Linked DNA regions of Homo sapiens. The protein of the gene in region 2 purifies or fractionates together with the protein of the main gene of each other region. This does not show direct contact. Each region holds a gene or a part of one and is shown on either strand. Other genes may lie near its edges.

What was found.
Region 1: the proteins of RPS6KB2 (region 2) and PRSS3 purify together in Homo sapiens (affinity purification with mass spectrometry, with the first as the bait; one large-scale study listed by BioGRID). This does not show direct contact.

The regions. Positions count from the first base shown.
Region 1 is NC_000009.12:33,793,774-33,798,590, forward strand, and holds the start of PRSS3 (trypsin-3 isoform 2 preproprotein), read left to right. Parts: upstream 1-1,787; 5' UTR 1,788-1,800; coding exon 1,801-1,840; intron 1,841-2,869; coding exon 2,870-3,029; intron 3,030-4,055; coding exon 4,056-4,309; intron 4,310-4,594; exon of another isoform or gene 4,595-4,712; coding exon 4,713-4,817. UniProt on the Homo sapiens protein: Digestive protease that cleaves proteins preferentially after an Arg residue and has proteolytic activity toward Kunitz-type trypsin inhibitors.
Region 2 is NC_000011.10:67,426,725-67,431,484, reverse strand, and holds the start of RPS6KB2 (ribosomal protein S6 kinase beta-2), read right to left. Parts: upstream 2,992-4,760; 5' UTR 2,940-2,991; coding exon 2,862-2,939; intron 2,504-2,861; coding exon 2,463-2,503; intron 2,366-2,462; coding exon 2,245-2,365; intron 1,959-2,244; coding exon 1,890-1,958; intron 118-1,889; coding exon 1-117. UniProt on the Homo sapiens protein: Phosphorylates specifically ribosomal protein S6. Seems to act downstream of mTOR signaling in response to growth factors and nutrients to promote cell proliferation, cell growth and cell cycle progression in an alternative pathway regulated by MEAK7.

The sequences.
Region 1 (4,817 bases), on a different chromosome or scaffold from region 2:
CTCAGTCTCTTCCTCTATAAATGGAAATAATTTTGCTCTGCACAAATCACAATTAGCATGTTTGTGGGAAGTCAAACTGTGAAACTCAGCATAACTGAAAAGCAATGTACCACTGTTGCTTATGTGAAAACTCTTGTAAAGCTGTCAGGCACCATGCACCATCTAAGTACAGCAGTGTTAGGTATGAGCCCATCAGTGATTAGAGGGGATGTGGGGTGGAGAGCGGGTCTCTGAGCAGTGGATCTCCTGGCTTTGGGGAAGCTGGCTCGTTGGCCATGCCAGGAGCTGAACCTGAAGGTACTCTGTGTGTCCTCTCAACTCCACGGGCCCCACATTCGCATTTTTTCCAATTCCCTCTGGTTTCCATTTGCTTCCTCCCTCTAGCCCCCTGGCCATGTCCGATCTCAACACGAAGTTTCTGAGCTTTTCTCATTTTGTTCACCATCTCCAGAACATCTCTGCTTCTTTTACTTTTCAAAGAATTTAAACTTGAACTCTGCTCACTCCTGCCCATCACCAACCTGAGCTCAGAGTTGCTGAGAAGGGAAAGCACCCTCATAAGGAAGCTCCTCCTTTCCTTACATCATTAGACTTGATCACAGACAGCATCTCCATCTCCACACTACTCTGGCCAGGTTGTGCCTCAGTCAATTACACAACTGTGTCTTAGTAGCCTTGGTAGGGCCCAAATCAGGATATTCTCTGGGAAGATTCACTTGATACTAAGCCCAGCATAATCTCACTGCATCTAAAATAGAAAATTCTAGACCCACCCCTCCACATCTTCTTATTGATCCCAATATGTGACCCATTTACCATGTGCTAAAATCTCTACCTACTGCTGATTCTCAGATCAGATGGTAACCCAGATTTACCATGGTCCAAACTCTGACATCTGATCAGGGGCATGTCATTCTGGTTCAGGCTGTCAGCCCTGAGCAGGTGAGTCAGTTTGCATCACCCTAAGTGCAGGTTGCCAGGACAACCGTGAGGCTGCATAAAAAGAACCTATGACAGGATGCACATGAGAGAGACAAGTGGCTTCACATTGAAGAAGGGGAGGAGTGCGCCATTGGTTTTCCATCCTCCAGATGCACTGAGTAAGCTCCTACCTAACCTGTGTCCCCTCCTTCTTTGAAACACTTCCCATCCTTTTAAGCCTTGGTAGGAAGGAGAGCCATCTGGAAGCCCAGAATCCTATGGAATGCTAAGTCTCCCTTCTCCTTACCCCTTAGTGTTGGAATTCTGGATACCCAAAGTCTTGGATTTGACCTTTGTGCACAGTGACTGCAAAGAAGCATATTCATATTCACAAAAATGAGCCTTAGATAAGACTTTCCTCCTCTCGTGGGGGCTCCAGGAAACTGAAAAGCCAAGCTTGTTACCAATGCTTGCCCTTCCTTAAGTACATTATTAAATACATCCCCAATAGTTAAAAGGACTCCTAGACACCCAGGCCATTCTCCCTCCTTCTAACCCTCATCTCCTCGGCCTACGAAAGCCCAGCTGTGTGATCCGGGGATTGGTTTCCCCTGTCTTCCCCATCCCAGCATCCTTCCAGGAAATAGCCAGTCTCCCTCTCTGCTCTCAGAAGGCAAGTTTCCTTATCACCTGTGAATCACAAACCCACAGAGTGGCCAAACGTAGCCGAGCTGATGCAAGACCCTGGCAAGGGGAAAGCTGCAGGTGTGTTTGTGCTGGGAAGAACTGTGACCCTCACCTCACAGACACCTCCTCTCCTGATTCTTGGAAGGGTATAAGGACAGGCCTTCCACCACCAGTCAGGCACACTCTACCACCATGAATCCATTCCTGATCCTTGCCTTTGTGGGAGCTGCTGGCGAGTTTCATGACCTGCCTCAGGCCCCACCCACCCCCTTTCCTGGCAGACACATGCCCTGCCATTCTTGCCACCTCTCCTCTTTTGACTGCGCTCTGATATTCTATTTCCTCCATCTGACATATCTCCTTCCCATCCTCCTTGGGCTCTCTTTAAGCCTCACCTGTTTCACCTTTTCCCTCATTTCACTCCCACCACTGTCATTCATCCATATCCGAGCTGTGGTTGGAGAAGCTGGGAAGGGAGACCAGGTGGGGCTGGCCCATGAAATGAAGTGGCAGGCTTCAGGCTTGGCTCCAAGAGCACCAGTATAGCACCACTATAGCTGCTCTTAACCTCGAATGCACCTGGGGAGGTTCAAAAATTACTCATGCCAGAGATTCAACTCTAGAAGTTCTAACTTCATTTGTCTGGGGTGCAGCCTGTGTACTGGGCTTTTAAGCTTCCCAGGTGATTTTTAACGTTTCCAGGCATGCCGCCAAAGTTAAGAATTGCTCTTCTATTGGCCAATAACAAAGTCTACCTTTGTTATGCCAAAGTGAGCCTGGGGCTGCCCTCAACTCTGCCCTCACTGCACAGATCTGAGCTATGGGGGAAGCTAGTCATGGCCAGGTCTACCCAGACAGGGGGTTTTCCTAGCTTAGCCAAAGTATCCTGACAATCCAGGGCTCAAATAGCCAGGGCAAGTACACAGGTGATGAATAAAAGAGAGAAGCACTCAGTGGGTGAGACAACAACATACCAACTGCTACCCCACTGGAAGCATTTTGAGGACATTCCTTGCATCCTCAGCCTGGTGTCCCCAGGAGAGATCTGAGCCCCTGCAGGGTACCTAGCTACGTGCCCTGCAGACACAGAGACTTGGGAGCCACATCCAGTGATGCTCACCAGGGGTGGCAGCGCTCCCTCCCTTGCCTGGCCTCACTGGGCTTGTTAAGGATTTCTAATTGGCAGGAAGCAACCGCAGGCTGGGAGCACCACCCCTAACATGCTACTGACTTGCCTTCTCCCTTCCTATTTCCACTCCAGTTGCTGTCCCCTTTGACGATGATGACAAGATTGTTGGGGGCTACACCTGTGAGGAGAATTCTCTCCCCTACCAGGTGTCCCTGAATTCTGGCTCCCACTTCTGCGGTGGCTCCCTCATCAGCGAACAGTGGGTGGTATCAGCAGCTCACTGCTACAAGACGTAAGTGTGGGGCCCCTGACTGCAAAGCTCCCAGCCAGGCTGCCTGGGAGAGCTTGGCTTCAGCCCAGGGAAGTACTGAGGTTGGGTAAGACGGATGGGAGAGGTGGTGGAAAAGAAAACTTGTTGACAGCAGCTGACTCTCCAGAGCAAGGCCAATCCATGAAACAGCAAGGGTTGTGGTCATAAAAGCAGGCAGGGATAATCTTGGAGTTGTCAGAGCTAGTGACAAAAGCAGGCAAGTACCTTTTGCTGGTTAGCTACACATTAAAGCGACCTAAGACAGAGTTTTTGAAAATACTGATGCCTGTGTCCTACCCCAGGGCAATTAACTCAAACTTCTCAGGAAGACAGTGTGAATACCAGTGAGTATTTAACACTCTACCTCTGGTAACTGTAGAGTGTATAGACAGAGCTGAGAACCGCTGCCTACACGAAGAACTCTCAAACCTGAGTATGCGTCAAAACCACCTGCAGGCTTATTAAAGCACAAATCACTGGGTCCCATCCCCAAGGTTCTGATCAGCGGGTGGGGGTAAGGACCAAGAATTTACATTTCTAACAAGTTCCCAGGAGATGCTAATGCTATGGCTACCCTTGGATTAGATTACACAGAAGGGTGGTGCTCACTAGGCCAAGAAGGGAGGGAGGAACAGGCGCTGTGCGCAGTTAGCAAAGACCTGGGGTGAAGAATGCTGGGAAAACTACGAGGAGCTCTTTGTGCCCACAGTGCTAGTGACTGTGGAGATTTGTGGGAAAGAGGCTGGGAAGGCAGGTTGAGGAGCAGCCTCTGGTGGGATCCCTTTGACTCTTCCCCACCCCACTACCACCAGCCTCTGAAGCAGAAAGGTCCTGGGTCTCACACCTGCACTGACCCACATCCCTCTCCTGCCCATGCAATATGGCCACACACCCCACCCCATGCCTCCAGAGCTATCCATGAGCAGTGAGCTTGAGGACCCTGGGGAAGGTGGGAGGGGTGCCCAGGCTGTGGGAGAAGGTCTTCACCATGCCTGCCCTGCCCATCAGCCGCATCCAGGTGAGACTGGGAGAGCACAACATCAAAGTCCTGGAGGGGAATGAGCAGTTCATCAATGCGGCCAAGATCATCCGCCACCCTAAATACAACAGGGACACTCTGGACAATGACATCATGCTGATCAAACTCTCCTCACCTGCCGTCATCAATGCCCGCGTGTCCACCATCTCTCTGCCCACCACCCCTCCAGCTGCTGGCACTGAGTGCCTCATCTCCGGCTGGGGCAACACTCTGAGCTTTGGTGGTGAGTGGGACCCTTTGTCCTTCTACTTCCCCCCATCCTCACAATTTCCAGAACGAAGCATGCCCCTTTATTTGAATCCTCTTGCCTCCCGGCTTAAGACACATTTCTAGTGCCCATTACACACAGTCTCTGCACTGGGCACCAGAGAGATGCAAAGTCTCAAGGACTTGGCTCCTAAAATCAAGAGATAGGACAAATGGAGAACTTGCTGTGATCACGTCTTGGGAGGGGTTCAACAATGATCATTCTGGAAACTAAAAGCCAGAGTCCCTTGCCAGAACTTACGTTTTGGAGTCCTCTCCAGAGGCAGTGTTCCTCTTCAATGTTCCATCCCAGATTATTGTCTCCTTCTCTGGCCTCACCCACATTTCTACTTTCTTTGATCTCTTCCTGATCCTCACAGCTGACTACCCAGACGAGCTGAAGTGCCTGGATGCTCCGGTGCTGACCCAGGCTGAGTGTAAAGCCTCCTACCCTGGAAAGATTACCAACAGCATGTTCTGTGTGG
Region 2 (4,760 bases):
GCCACCAGTCTGGAAGGCATAGGCCAGTTCCACAATAAAGGGGTGCTTCACTGACTCTAGAATGTTCCGCTCAGCCCGTGTGTGTGCTGTGTCCTTGGCATTGCGCACAATTTTGGCCTGGAGATACAGGAATTGGTTAGAAACTGAGGCATCCAGGCTGGGCACAGTGGCTCACACCTGTAATCCCAGCACTCTAGGAGGCCAAGGCAGGCGGATTACCTGAGGTCAGGAATTTGAGACCAGCCTGGCCAACATGGTGAAACCCCATCTCTACTAAAAATAGAAAAATTAGCTGGGTATGATGGTACACGCCTGTAATCCCAGCTCAGGAGGCTGAGGCAGGAGAATCGCTTGAACCCAGGGGCAGAGGTTGCAGTGAGCTGAGATCACGCCACTGCACTCCAGCCTGGGTGACAGAGCGAGACACTATCTCAAAAAAAAAAAAAAAAAAAAAATGGGGGCAACCAGAGCTCCTCAGACCATCCATCTGTTTGTTAACTGCTGCATCCTCTGTCACTGCATTGTATTTCTCCATAATTCTGCTGCTGTCAGCCACCATCATTTTCAGGGATGGGTTTATCCTCTAACACAGGGTTTCTCAACCTCGGCACTACTGACACCTGGGACCAGGTCATTCTTTGTTGTGGGAGGCTGCCCTGCGCATCGTGGGATGTTCAGCAGCATCCCTGGTCTCCACCCACCGGGTGCCAGTAACACTCCCCTCTTGCCTTGACAATCAAAAATGTGTCCATGCCAGGCGCAGTGGATCACACCTGTAATCCCAGCACTTTGGGAGGTTGAGGCAGGCGAATCACCTGAGGTCAGGAGTTCGAGACCAGCCTGACCAACATGGTGAAACCCTGCCTCCACTAAAAAGTACAAAAACTAGGCCAGGCACGGTGGTTCATGGCTGTAATCCCAGCACTTTGGGAGGCCAAGGTGAGCGGATAGCCTGAGGTCAGGAGTTCAAGACCAGCCTGACCAACATGACAAAAACCCATCTCTACTAAAAATACAAAAAAAAAAAATTAGCCAGGAGTGGTGGTTCACGCCTGTAATCCCAGCTACTCAGGAGGCTGAGGCAGGAGAATCACTTCACCCTGGGAGGTGGAGGTTGCCAGTGAGCCGAGATCGCACCACTGCACTCCAGCCTGAGTGACAGAGTGAGACTCCGTCTCAAAATAAGTAGGTAAACAAATAGAAATACAAAGATTAGCCAGGTGTGGTGGCACAAGCCTGTAGTCCCAACTACTCAGGAGGCTGAGGTAAGAGAATTACCTGAACCCGGGAGGCAGAGGTTGCAGTGAGCAGAGAGTGCACTACTGCACTCCAGTCTGGGGAACAAAGCAAGACTCCATCCAAAAAAAAAAAAAAGCTAGGGACGGTGGCTCATGCCTGTAATCCCAGCTCCCAGCACGTTGGAGGCCAAGGCGGGCAGATCACCTGAGATTAGGAGTTAGAGACCAGCCAGGCGAAACCCCACCTCTACAAAAAAGTACAAAAATTAGCTGGGTGTGGTGGCAAGCGCCTGTAATCCCAGCTACTCCGGAGTCTAAGGCACGAGAATCGCTTGAACCTGGGAGACAGAGGTGGCAGTGAGCCAAAATCGCGTCACTGCACTCCAGCCTGGGTGACAGAGCAAGACTCCGTCTTAAAAAAAAATAAAATAAAATAGTGTCCAGACACTGTTGTCAAATGTCTGCTGGGAGTCAAAATTGCCCCCATTGAGAATTACTGCAAGACAATACACATCACAACAGACAATAAACCAGCAAACGCCAAAGTCAGGGATCCTCCTCCACTGTGTTCCCTGCTGTCTTCCCAAAGCCTGGTACAGCATGTTGGGAATGGCAGCCACACAGTATTCGTTGGCTGAACGAGTGACTCACCTTCCTTAGGACTTTCATGGCATATATTTTGCCCAAGTTGGTGCCTTGCACCTTTCGCACCTGGAACACCTGTAGGGCAGGGGAGACAGGATCAACTTCCCTCTCCACATCCTATCTTCAAGAAGCCCCACCCTGAAGCTCTGGCTTTGGGATCAGGAGGCCTAGGCCCTGCCAAGGGTGGGGCAGTGAAGATTTCAAGTCCGATTGGAGAGGATTTGGCCTTCCCTCCTTTATGTTTCTGGCTCTGAATCCCATTAGAGGCCCTGCTGATTCACAAGTCTAATTTGTTTTGAGAACCCTTTGCTGCCTCCAGATGGAGGCTGTGAGGCCAGGAGGAGGGTGCGCCCGCCCCTACCTTGCCATAGCCCCCCTTGCCCAGCACACGCAGCAGCTCAAAGCAGTGGGGCCCGATGCGCTCTGGGCCAACGTTCACGCTGGTCTCAGTCAGCTCCACCTCTTCATAGTGTCCCACAGGCCTACGGACACAAGGAGTTAATGAGGACAAGGCTCCAGTGCTCCCCAGTTCCCCTTCCCCACTCCATTCCCCCCTCCCCCAACACGACCCTCACTCACTCTAGGCCAGCTGCCCTCAACTCGGCAAGGGGACATGCGTCCTGTGAGAAACCGAGGGGTAAGAGCCAAGGAAGGTGCCAGGATACCTCCCCGCTCCCGTTCAGGTTGGACTGCGTGGCCCAGGAGAGAAGGGTGTCAGGGATGGCAGCTAGTAGGGGATGGGTAAGAATTGGGAAGAAACCGAAGGCAGGAAAGGGAGAATCGGGAGAAAAGGCTGGGGTTCTGGAAGAGAGGTCGGGGTGAGGGTGGGATCAGAACTTAATAGAGACCGGGATCTGAGAAGGATCTGGGTCTGCAAAGAGTCGGAGCCCGCTCTGGGCGTGCGGAGCCGCCGCTCCGGCCTCGGCTGGGTGACAGGATCGGCTCCAGGATCCAGTCGCGCCAGGGCAGGGCACTCACCGCGGGGCTGAGCTCTGGCTCGCCCTCGCCCTCGCTGCCTTCCTCCGTCTCCAAATCCAAATCAAACACGGCCGCCATGGCGGCGCCGGCCCCGCGGGCCCGTCGGCCCGTACCTGGCCGCGCACTGACTGACAGTCCCGGACCTAAACATCATCTCTCCGCGACGGCAGCTGCGCGCGCCGGTGACGCAAGGGATCTTACTCCCCCTCCGGAAAATCGCTTAGCCTGGTGGGGAACAAAGATGGCTTCCGTCGCAAGGCCTCTCGGGAATTGTAGTCCTAGAGTGGCGAGGCGCCTAGCCTTCAGCCTGCAGAATCCTTTCCGCAGGACCCTCGGTCTTCCCAGCAAGGCTTTCTGGGAGCCCGTTTTGGTTCTACGGTGTTTTGAGTTTGGATGGAGCAGGGTCGGAAGTGTATGCAGGTGTGAATGTAAATGCAATCCCCAGCCCTGTTGGAGACGGGTACTGCCAGGCCGGCTGCGTGATGAAAGGCAGGTCGCGTTGCTTTCGGTTCACTCCAGAAAGGGAGGCGGCTGCATCAGGGTCTCCTCAAAGTGCCTCTGGCTCGAGGACCCTGCAAATCGGAGCATTTACTGAGTGGCCAGCTCACTGCCAGGCTATGTTGCCAGGTTCCCGCCTTAAATAGGGTTTTGGGGGTCAGTGATAGACCTGTAAATATGGGATTTTGTTGGCGTTTACTCCCTTCTTAATTTAAGCACATTTAGGCACCTGGTACAGAATAGACACTTCAAAAAACGTTGTTGAGGCCGGACACGATGCCTCACGCCTGTAATCGTAGCACTTTGGGAAGCCAAGTTGGGAGGATCACTTGAGGCCAGGAGTTCAAGGTTACAGTGAGCTATGATGGTGCCACTGCACTCCAGGCTGGGTGACACAGTGAGATCCTGTCTCAAAAAAACAAACAGGCCGGAGGCGGTGGCTCACACCTGTAATCTCAACACTTTCGGAGGCCGAGGTGGGTGGATCACTTGAGGTCAGAAGTTGGAGACCAGCCTGGCCAACATGATGAAACTCTGCCTCTACTATAAATACAAAAAATTAGACGGGTGTGGTGGCGCGCACCTGTACTCCCAGATACTCGGGAGGTTGAGGCAGGAGAATCGCTTGAACTCGGGCGATAGAGGTTGCAGTGAGCCAAGATTGCACCACTGCGCTCCAGGCTGGGCGGCAGAGTGAGACCAAGTCTCAAACAGATAAAACCCGAAAACCTGGCTGGTCACGGTGGCTCACACCTGTAATCCCAGCACTTTGGGAGGCCGAGCCAGGCGGATCACCTGAGGTCGGGAGTTCAGGACCAGCCTGACCAACATGGAGAAACCCCGTCTCTACTAAAAACACAAAATTAGCTGGGCATGGTGGTGCATGCTTGTAATCCCAGCTACTCGGGAAGGCTGAGGCAGGCGAATCACTTGAACCTGGGAAGCGGAGGTTGCGGTGAGCCAAGATCATGCCATTGTACTCCAGCCTGGGCAACAAGAGCGAGACTCCATCTTAAAAAAAAAAAAAAAAAAAAAAAAAAAAAAAAAAAAAACTTTATGGTTTTTTTTTCTTTGTTTTGTTTAGTTTTTCAGACAGGATCTTACTCTGTCACCCAGGCTGGAGTACAGTGGCAAGATCGTGGCTCATTGCAGCCTTGACTTCTTGGGTTCCAGTGATTCTCCCACCTCAAATCCCAAGTAACTGGAATGACATAATCACATAATCTTTTTTCTTTTCTTTCTTTCTTTCTTTTTTTTTTTTTTTAGAGGGGAGGTCTTGTTTTGTTGCCCAGGAGGCTGGTCTTGAACTTCTGGACTCAAGTGATCCTCCTGCCTTGGCCTTCCAAAGTGCTGTGATTACAGGCATGAGCCACTACACCCAGCAAAAACCAAAAACGCTGT